2 linked regions of the Homo sapiens genome follow. The protein of the gene in region 2 interacts with the protein of the main gene of each other region in a pairwise test. Each region holds a gene or a part of one and is shown on either strand. Other genes may lie near its edges.

Evidence for each region. The genes of interacting proteins can lie anywhere in the genome.
Region 1: the proteins of GEM (region 2) and KATNBL1 interact in binary tests that used the Homo sapiens proteins (3 or more experiments, as listed by UniProt).

The regions. Positions count from the first base shown.
Region 1 is NC_000015.10:34,154,497-34,158,247, forward strand, and holds part of KATNBL1 (KATNB1-like protein 1), read right to left. Parts: intron 189-3,751; coding exon 148-188; intron 1-147.
Region 2 is NC_000008.11:94,260,657-94,264,407, reverse strand, and holds the start of GEM (GTP-binding protein GEM), read left to right. Parts: upstream 1-2,088; 5' UTR 2,089-2,318; intron 2,319-3,751. UniProt on the Homo sapiens protein: Could be a regulatory protein, possibly participating in receptor-mediated signal transduction at the plasma membrane. Has guanine nucleotide-binding activity but undetectable intrinsic GTPase activity.

The DNA.
Region 1 (3,751 bases), on a different chromosome or scaffold from region 2:
TTTATTAGTGCAGATACTGGCATAAAGAAGCTGTTTGACAATAAGTTAATTATTATTATGATAAAAGAATGCTTATTTTTCCCTTATTGTCATCCTTACCCAGCTTTCATATTTGTTGTTCCCCACAAACTTTAAAGAAACTCTTACCTATTTATGTAAGCAGCCAACTGTTTTGGAGATTTCTTAACCTGAAAAATGAAAGTAGATAGTTGATGTTAGAAACAAATGCTTGGTGCCGCAAAGAAGAATCAGCACTCCGGCAAAAAGCTTTCTCAGCAAGGCAATTTACTTCTGCAGAAGGGTGCCAATCGTGCCTGGAGTGGTCGCAAGAGCATACCGGGCATGGGAGGAGAAGGGGTTCTTATCCCTAATGCAGCTAGTCCCTACTACTGTGTCATTCCCCTATTGGCTAGGGTTGGACCGCACAGTCTAAACTAATTCTGATAGGCTATCTGGGTATGAGGCAGAGTGGCGGGGTGAGCAGTTTAGGCAGGAAGGATGGTTACAGTGCAGGTGACTAAGGATGACTAAGGACAGAGCAGGTGACTAAGGATGACTAAGGACTCTAAATATGTGAGTATAAAGGCTAGAAGGGGGTTGTTTACTGAAACTAGGGCAAGGAGGTGTAAAGAATGAGGAAGTTAAACTTTAAAATGGAGAACAAAGTATAAGAAAGCTGAACATACTGACATACTGGTTCCCAGAGGAACTCAGAACTCACTGTACTTAACAATATCCCCCTTTTGAATTTTACAGGTCTTCCTCTTCAAATTTCTTTAACATGTCTTGGCATAGCTGTTCTGCTTGGTTTTCTAAAAGAAAGAGCTTGTCAGAATATGGTGGAGGGGAACTGAGAGAAGTTTTAGTAAGGGCTGTTTCTGTATGTCTTTGGACTAGCCCACGGATGCGAGGTATGATGCAGCATCCAACAAGGATAAGCACTACTGCTACAATTGCAAGAGAAGTAAGGATGGTGGCTGTGATCCCTTTCCATTTACCAAACCATTTTTCTAGCCACCCTGTGAAGGGGTCATTTACTCCTGAGTTTTTTGCTAACTCATTGGACAGAGCAGTTAGACCTTGCAATGCCTTTGTTATACTTTCATCAGGGGCGGTATTGTTTGGGATGAAGGTACAACACTGAGTTTTAATCATGATGCAAACTTCCCCTTTTTCTGCTAAAATCATGTCTAAGGCCATTCTATTTTCCCAAGCCATCTGGCTAGTAAGCCCTAATTGCTCAGCTATTCCTTTAACAGCATCTCTAGTATAGTTAATAAACCGCTGTTGGTTGTAATAGGTGGAATTTATCTAATCTACGTTTTTATTAATTGTCACCCACCAAAATATTGACTCAAATCCAGCAGCTATTTGATCTCAGGTCTTAAATTTATTTGGTACTCCTCGTGGGACTCTAATTGCATCTAAATAAATGTGGGAGTCGAAAGACCCATAAGGGGCTTCCCTTGCTTTATGACATTGTGTTTTTTTCTTTCTCTGGTTGATGAAATGCCAGGGTGAAAGGGATAGCCAACTGCACTAGGGCGCAAGTGACACTCCAGTTACTAGGCAGAGTGTCCAGCAAAGGTCTACCACAATATCACCATACATCTGCTCGGGGGTGTATAAGGGCTGACTGGTTGGTGAGCTCTTGGAAAGTCTTAAGCTCACCGCATCCTTTTAGGTCTCTAAGGGATGCTAAGTTTCCTCTTTGTCGTGAGAGACACAAAATGAACTCAGTGTCGGGAGACAGAAGCTGGATGGCCCTCGGGGGCTAACCTGTGGGGTCTTGAACTTCGGGATATAGCAGAGAAAGAGCTTGGCACGACTTGTTACCCCAGGCTGTGGAATCCTGGAAAAAGAGCTACCATACAGCCCATGCCTGGTTGACTGGAGGACCATCATAGTGGAAAGGGGACAATCTGGCCCTCTGGCCTGCCATGCGCACGAGCATAACAATTGCTTTTGTTTAAAGTGCGGATGAAATATTTTATCTATTCTAACCAGGCATTGGCATTTTGATATCCCGTCTCAATTGCTAAAGTTTCTTTTAGGACTTTGACTTCTACAATAGCTACCTTCGTCTTGTCATTAGATGGAGGAAGAACAACAGTTTTGTTGTGGGAGGTTCTGGAAGAAGGCTTAGGGGAAGGTGTAGGCGGTGGGGGAGCAATGAAGAATATTTCAAAGGATCTGATAGGGTCTGCTCCTGAAACCTCAGCCCCCATATTATAAAACTGGCTTAAAGAAGGAAATTGGCTTAGAGAAGGGGAAGAACTTAGAGGGTTTGAGATAATAGCCTGTACTGGATTGTACTGATTTAGCTGACAGTTAGGGGAAGCTGTTCCTTTAGTAAAATGAATGTATAGCTTTAGGAAATTACAACTACTGCTTGGGGCAATCTATTCTTGCTCTTTAGTGGTCCACAGAATGTTGGACCAACTACAGCATAAAAGCTTTGTATTGGGAAGGCAAGACTCTCAGTTTATACTGGAATCTCCGTCAAACTCTTCCCAAGCTAACTTATCCCAGTTAACAGAATTCCAGTCTGAGAAGAGCTAGGAAGGACAAAGATACTTTTCTGAAGTGGAGAGTTGCCTCTGGCTTGGCACATCTCCACAGGGCATCACAAGGCAAGCATCAAAGGTAATAGTTTGGGGTGAACTCGACCTAGTTACATTAATAACAAGAGGACTAGCAATAGATGGGGAAAAGAAGAGATGCAACATAAGAGGATCAAACCCGTTTTAGCTTTAGCTTGGTTAGAGTAAGCCCTAGAATAGCTGCCCATGATTCTGGAGGAGGTGGTGCTCTTTTGACCTGGGTGTGATGAGTCCATCCCATTTCTGCTGTTTGAACTGTGGTCTCAATGGTTAGAAGCACTAGGCAGGGTCCTTCCTAAGCTGGTTCAAGTTTTCCTTCCCTCCAACTTTTGACAAGGATGTGGTCCCTAGGCTGATGTTGGTGTACTGGAAACTCTAGGGGTGGTGCCTGTGCTAAAAGACCTTTAGTTCTGAGGCAAGAGAAAGTGGAAGATAAACTTAAGTATATAATTTCTGAGAAACTGATCTTTTGTTTCGAACATGGGAATGTCAGCAGCGGAGTGCAAATAGAGCAACTTACACAACATTTCATAAGGGGATAAGCCAACATCTCTCTGAGGAGCAGTTCGGATTCTCAACAGGGCAATGGGAAGGCATCTAGTCCATGGCAACCGAGTCTCTAAGACTAATTTGCTTAAGTGGCTTTTTAGAGTTTGGTTCATTTTTTTCCCCACTCTTCCTGATGAAGGTGGGTGCCAGGGAGTATGATTTCCCATGTTATATCCAGTACCTGGGCTAATTTCTTAATGACATGTGCAATGAAATGAGTTCCATTATCTGAATCAATGTTTCCTATTAATCCAAACCTGGGTATAATATTTTCAACTAATGTTTTGACTACATTATTAGCAGTTGCACTTGAAAGGAAATAGCTTCTACCCAATGAGTAAGGTGATCTACTATTACTAATAAATATTTTAGACAACCAATTTGGGGCATCTTGGCGTAATCAACTTGGATACTTTGGAACAGTCTTAATTCCAGATACCTTCCCCTAAGAGGTGGTTTTCTGAGGGTCTGCTTATTAGTCATCCTAAATACTAGGCAACTATCTGTAACCTGTCATGTCAAAGTGTAAATTGCTACACATCCATAAACCCAAAGGACTGCATCACACATAGCTTGAGGTCCCCAATGAGTCTCTTGAT
Region 2 (3,751 bases):
AGCGATTCTCCCGCCTCAGCCTCCTGAGTAGCTGGGATTACAGGCATCCACCACCATGCCCGGCTATTTTTTTGTATTTTTAGTAGAGACAGGGTTTCATTACGTTGGCCAGGCTGGTCTTGAACTCCTGACCTCGTGATCCACCCACCTCAGCCTCCCAAAGTGCTAGGATTACAGGCGTGAGCCACTGTGCCTGGCCAGAATTAGGTTTTTATAAATGTGAAGTATTAGATTCTTATCAATCGGCAAAAGTAGAACTGAGGAACTATATCATATGCTTATAAACTGATTTCTTCTTAGTTTTTACTCCTATGATGTTTCTGTTGAGACCAGTTGACAGAGTAGGAGTGTCAGTATGGAAAAAGCATGGATCATTTTGAAACATGGATTATTCATCAATTACATGTGTTTTAGAATGGAGTCAGTGATATACTCTTGGAGATGATCTCCCCCACCCCCCATCTCCTCTCCTTTTCCTTTCCCCACATCTGTAGCCACTTCCTGTCAGCGAAACCCAGAAGAAAAACTTGACAGAAGCAAAGGGCATCCAGAGAATTATGATCCCCAGGTTGTAGTTCCAGTTCTGTCATGTCCTAAGCGGTCATCTCCTCTCTGGGTCTCAGGTTTCTTATGTATAAGATAAGTAGGAGATTGGGGCCACAACACCTGAGACTAAAGGAATTCTAAGTTTTCATTACTCTATGGATTCCACCTTTGCTAGCTTGGGACCTGGCAGGTCTCAGCAGCTGGTCATGTAGCTAATTCTCAAAGCAGATAAATGCCTGCAGGATAACTGTGAATTGACTCTAATCACAGCAGAGTCCAGCTGCTTCAATAGATGCTGGTGCCTTTGGCTGCTTCCCGGAGCCACCAGCCAACCCAGAGTTGAAGCTGGCTGGAAAAGCAGATATGTTGGAGAGGCCAGCATCATCTCTAAACACAGCATCTGGGAAATACCCATGTCCCCAGAAAGAGGTCATTGAAATCCTTCACTTGGTGGTGCAGTGCAGAGACTCAGGAAAACCAGGCTTTGAGTCCTGACCCTGCCACTTATACCAGCGGTGTGACCTTGGGCAAATTCTCTGGCCCTATGTTATCTTCCTCCTCCATACAATGAGGGTAGAAATAGAGCCACCTTGCAGAAGTATAGTAAGGATTAAGGTCCCAGGAGGCCTAACAGTACCTACTAAGCAGAGGTCCTCAGAGGTACTTAATAAATGGTAGTAGTAGTTATTATCCTGTGCCCTTTGTTCACAGGAGTCTCTTACAGGGGTGTTGGTCTCAGTGCTCCTCCCCATGGCCAGGCTGTATTGGCTCATGCCCAAGGCGTAGCCTTGCCAGGGAGCCTGGTACAGAGATGCTGCTGATTGGGATGCTGATTAAATTCCCTGATTGAGGAGCCTCAGCATTCTGGCCCAGAGCAGGAGGGCCAGCAATATTTAGCACAATCTGCTTGGATCCTCAATTAAATTGTTTTTCCAAACTGCCCTTTTCAAGGTCTTGTCCTCTTTCCTCACCTCTTTCTGGCCCCTTCTCTCTGGGTCCTTGCCAGAGAAGGGAAACAAAGCCTTGTGGGGCTCCATCTGCTTCCCCCTATCCAGAAGAAGGTGACAAGGCTGTCTTCGTTGCAGAAGATGTGGTTAAAACAAGCCTTGGCTATTCAAGGTGGCTGCAGTCTCATCCTGGAGGCTAAAGTCTCTGCGCATTCCAGGTTGATCTCTGTTTTCTTGGCAAAACTGAGTTCTCAACTCAAACCTGCCTCTCCCTTCCATCCTTTATCCCGACAGCTCGCAAGTGCTTTGCTGGGAAGGACGATTAAGTGTCACTTAGTGTATTTTTCCATTTTCCTGTGTTCATCTGGTAAAAAGAAAATAAAACAAAATAAAGGAGGCCCAGGATTGAACTGTCATTATTTTTTAAATGGAGAGAGAAGGGGTCACATGACTGCGAGTAACTGATTTAGCCAAGTGGCTGCAACTCCGAGTTTGCTGCAGAGCCGCCCCCTCCCGGCGGGGGCGCTGACGTCACGGAAAAGCCCCGCGGCGGGTCGGCTGGGCTGGTTATAAACCGCCCGGCCGCGGCGGCTGCAGGCGGCGGGCAAGGACGGCGGGCACAGCGCAGCACTCCCCGCTCGTTGGCCCGGGTATCCCAGCGCGGACCCACGCGATACGCTGACGCCCCGACGCCGATCCGGCCGAGCCAAGTAAGGGGGACGGCCCGAGACGGAGAAGGGAGAGAGTGGGAGTTTCCCAGCCCGCAGAACTTTCGAAGTTGAGAAAAGAACCCCTGGAACGTGCGCTCAGCACTGGGATTTTCTGGTAGGGGTCAGAGCTTCAAGTGCAAAGGATGTCGCTTCTCATCAGCAGGTTCCTTAGTTCAATTCGGTAGAAGGGTCACCTCCCTCTACAGATCGAGTGGTCAGAGAGGGCAGCCCTTAATGATGCTTTATGTATTTGTTGTTTGAATGTAAGTCTGCCAACTGAGGTGCTGCTTTTGAGACTAAAAAACCGGCTGGTCGTCCTGGTTAGTGGCGAGATGTTGGGGTACGGAGTGTGGGGGTGAGGGTGGGAGAGGAGTGTTTGTGCATCTTGCTGATTGCAACGTAAGTACTTATACTTTATCACCAGTAGCCGGAAAAACAGACCTCCCGGCTAGGGGAGGCAGTCTGCAAAGGGAAAGTTGTAGAGAAGTTGTTGAATATCATTTAGGGGAGTCTTCAGCCTTCTGATTTGCTTCAAGAAGGGGATCTGAGAATGGTGGCTCAGGCCTGTGATCTCAGCACTTTCGGAAGCCGAGGCAGGAGGATCACTTGACCCCAGGAGTTCGAGACCAGCCTGGGCAACATAGTGAGGCCACTGTCTCTACCAAAAAATAAAAATAAAAATAAAAAAACTAGTGGACGTGGTAGTGCAGGTCTGTAGTCCCAGCTACTTGGGAGGCTGAAGTGGAGGATCTCTTGAGCCTGGCAGTTGGAGGCTAGCTACAGTGAGCTATGATCGTGCCACTGCACTCCAGCCTGGGTGACAGAGCAAGACCCTGACTCAAAAAAGGAATCTGAGTTGAATTAAAGAACTCTTGAGAATGGATGTGGTTTTTTAAGAATGAGGCACTTTCTCTGCAAATTTCATAGGTCTGAACATGAGCAGGTCATTTCTCTGCCAGGGTGTCTAGGTTTGGAGCCGGGATGTTTTAAAAGTGGTATCTGTGGGTAAGAGGGCACAGCTGAGGCATAAACTTTAAACAGAAAATTTCCCCCCTACCCCCAATAATGGCAGGTGGATGCTCTCCAGGCAGCTGGAGAGCATCAAGGCAACTTTACTAAACATGGAAGTTCCAATAAGTGCCTGTCCAGTCCAGCCAGGGTTGCAGTGGGCAGGGGAGGGGAGGGTGATGTCATTGCCACGTGTTTCCCACTGAGGCACAAAACCTGCTGGACACTGGTGCAATTAAGAGCCAAGTTTAGACAAGAGCAGCTAACCTGACCAGCTGGTCCCCAGCAACATTAACTTGTTGCTTTTCAAGCCATCTTTGGAGTCTGCTGGTTCTTTCCAGCTGCCTTTGTGCCAGCTCTGAGTGCAGCTCTTCTTTCATCCAAGTCTGCTTTGAGGAAGGGGGAAGCCCATGGGCAGTGGGTGATGTTAACCGTATTTGTTTTCCCATGCAAATGATAGTCTGCCTGAGGAGCTGGTTACTGACAGTGTGGGCAGCATGTGTGTGTCCAGTTGAAAGCCTGTCTTGTTGGGGTTTGGGG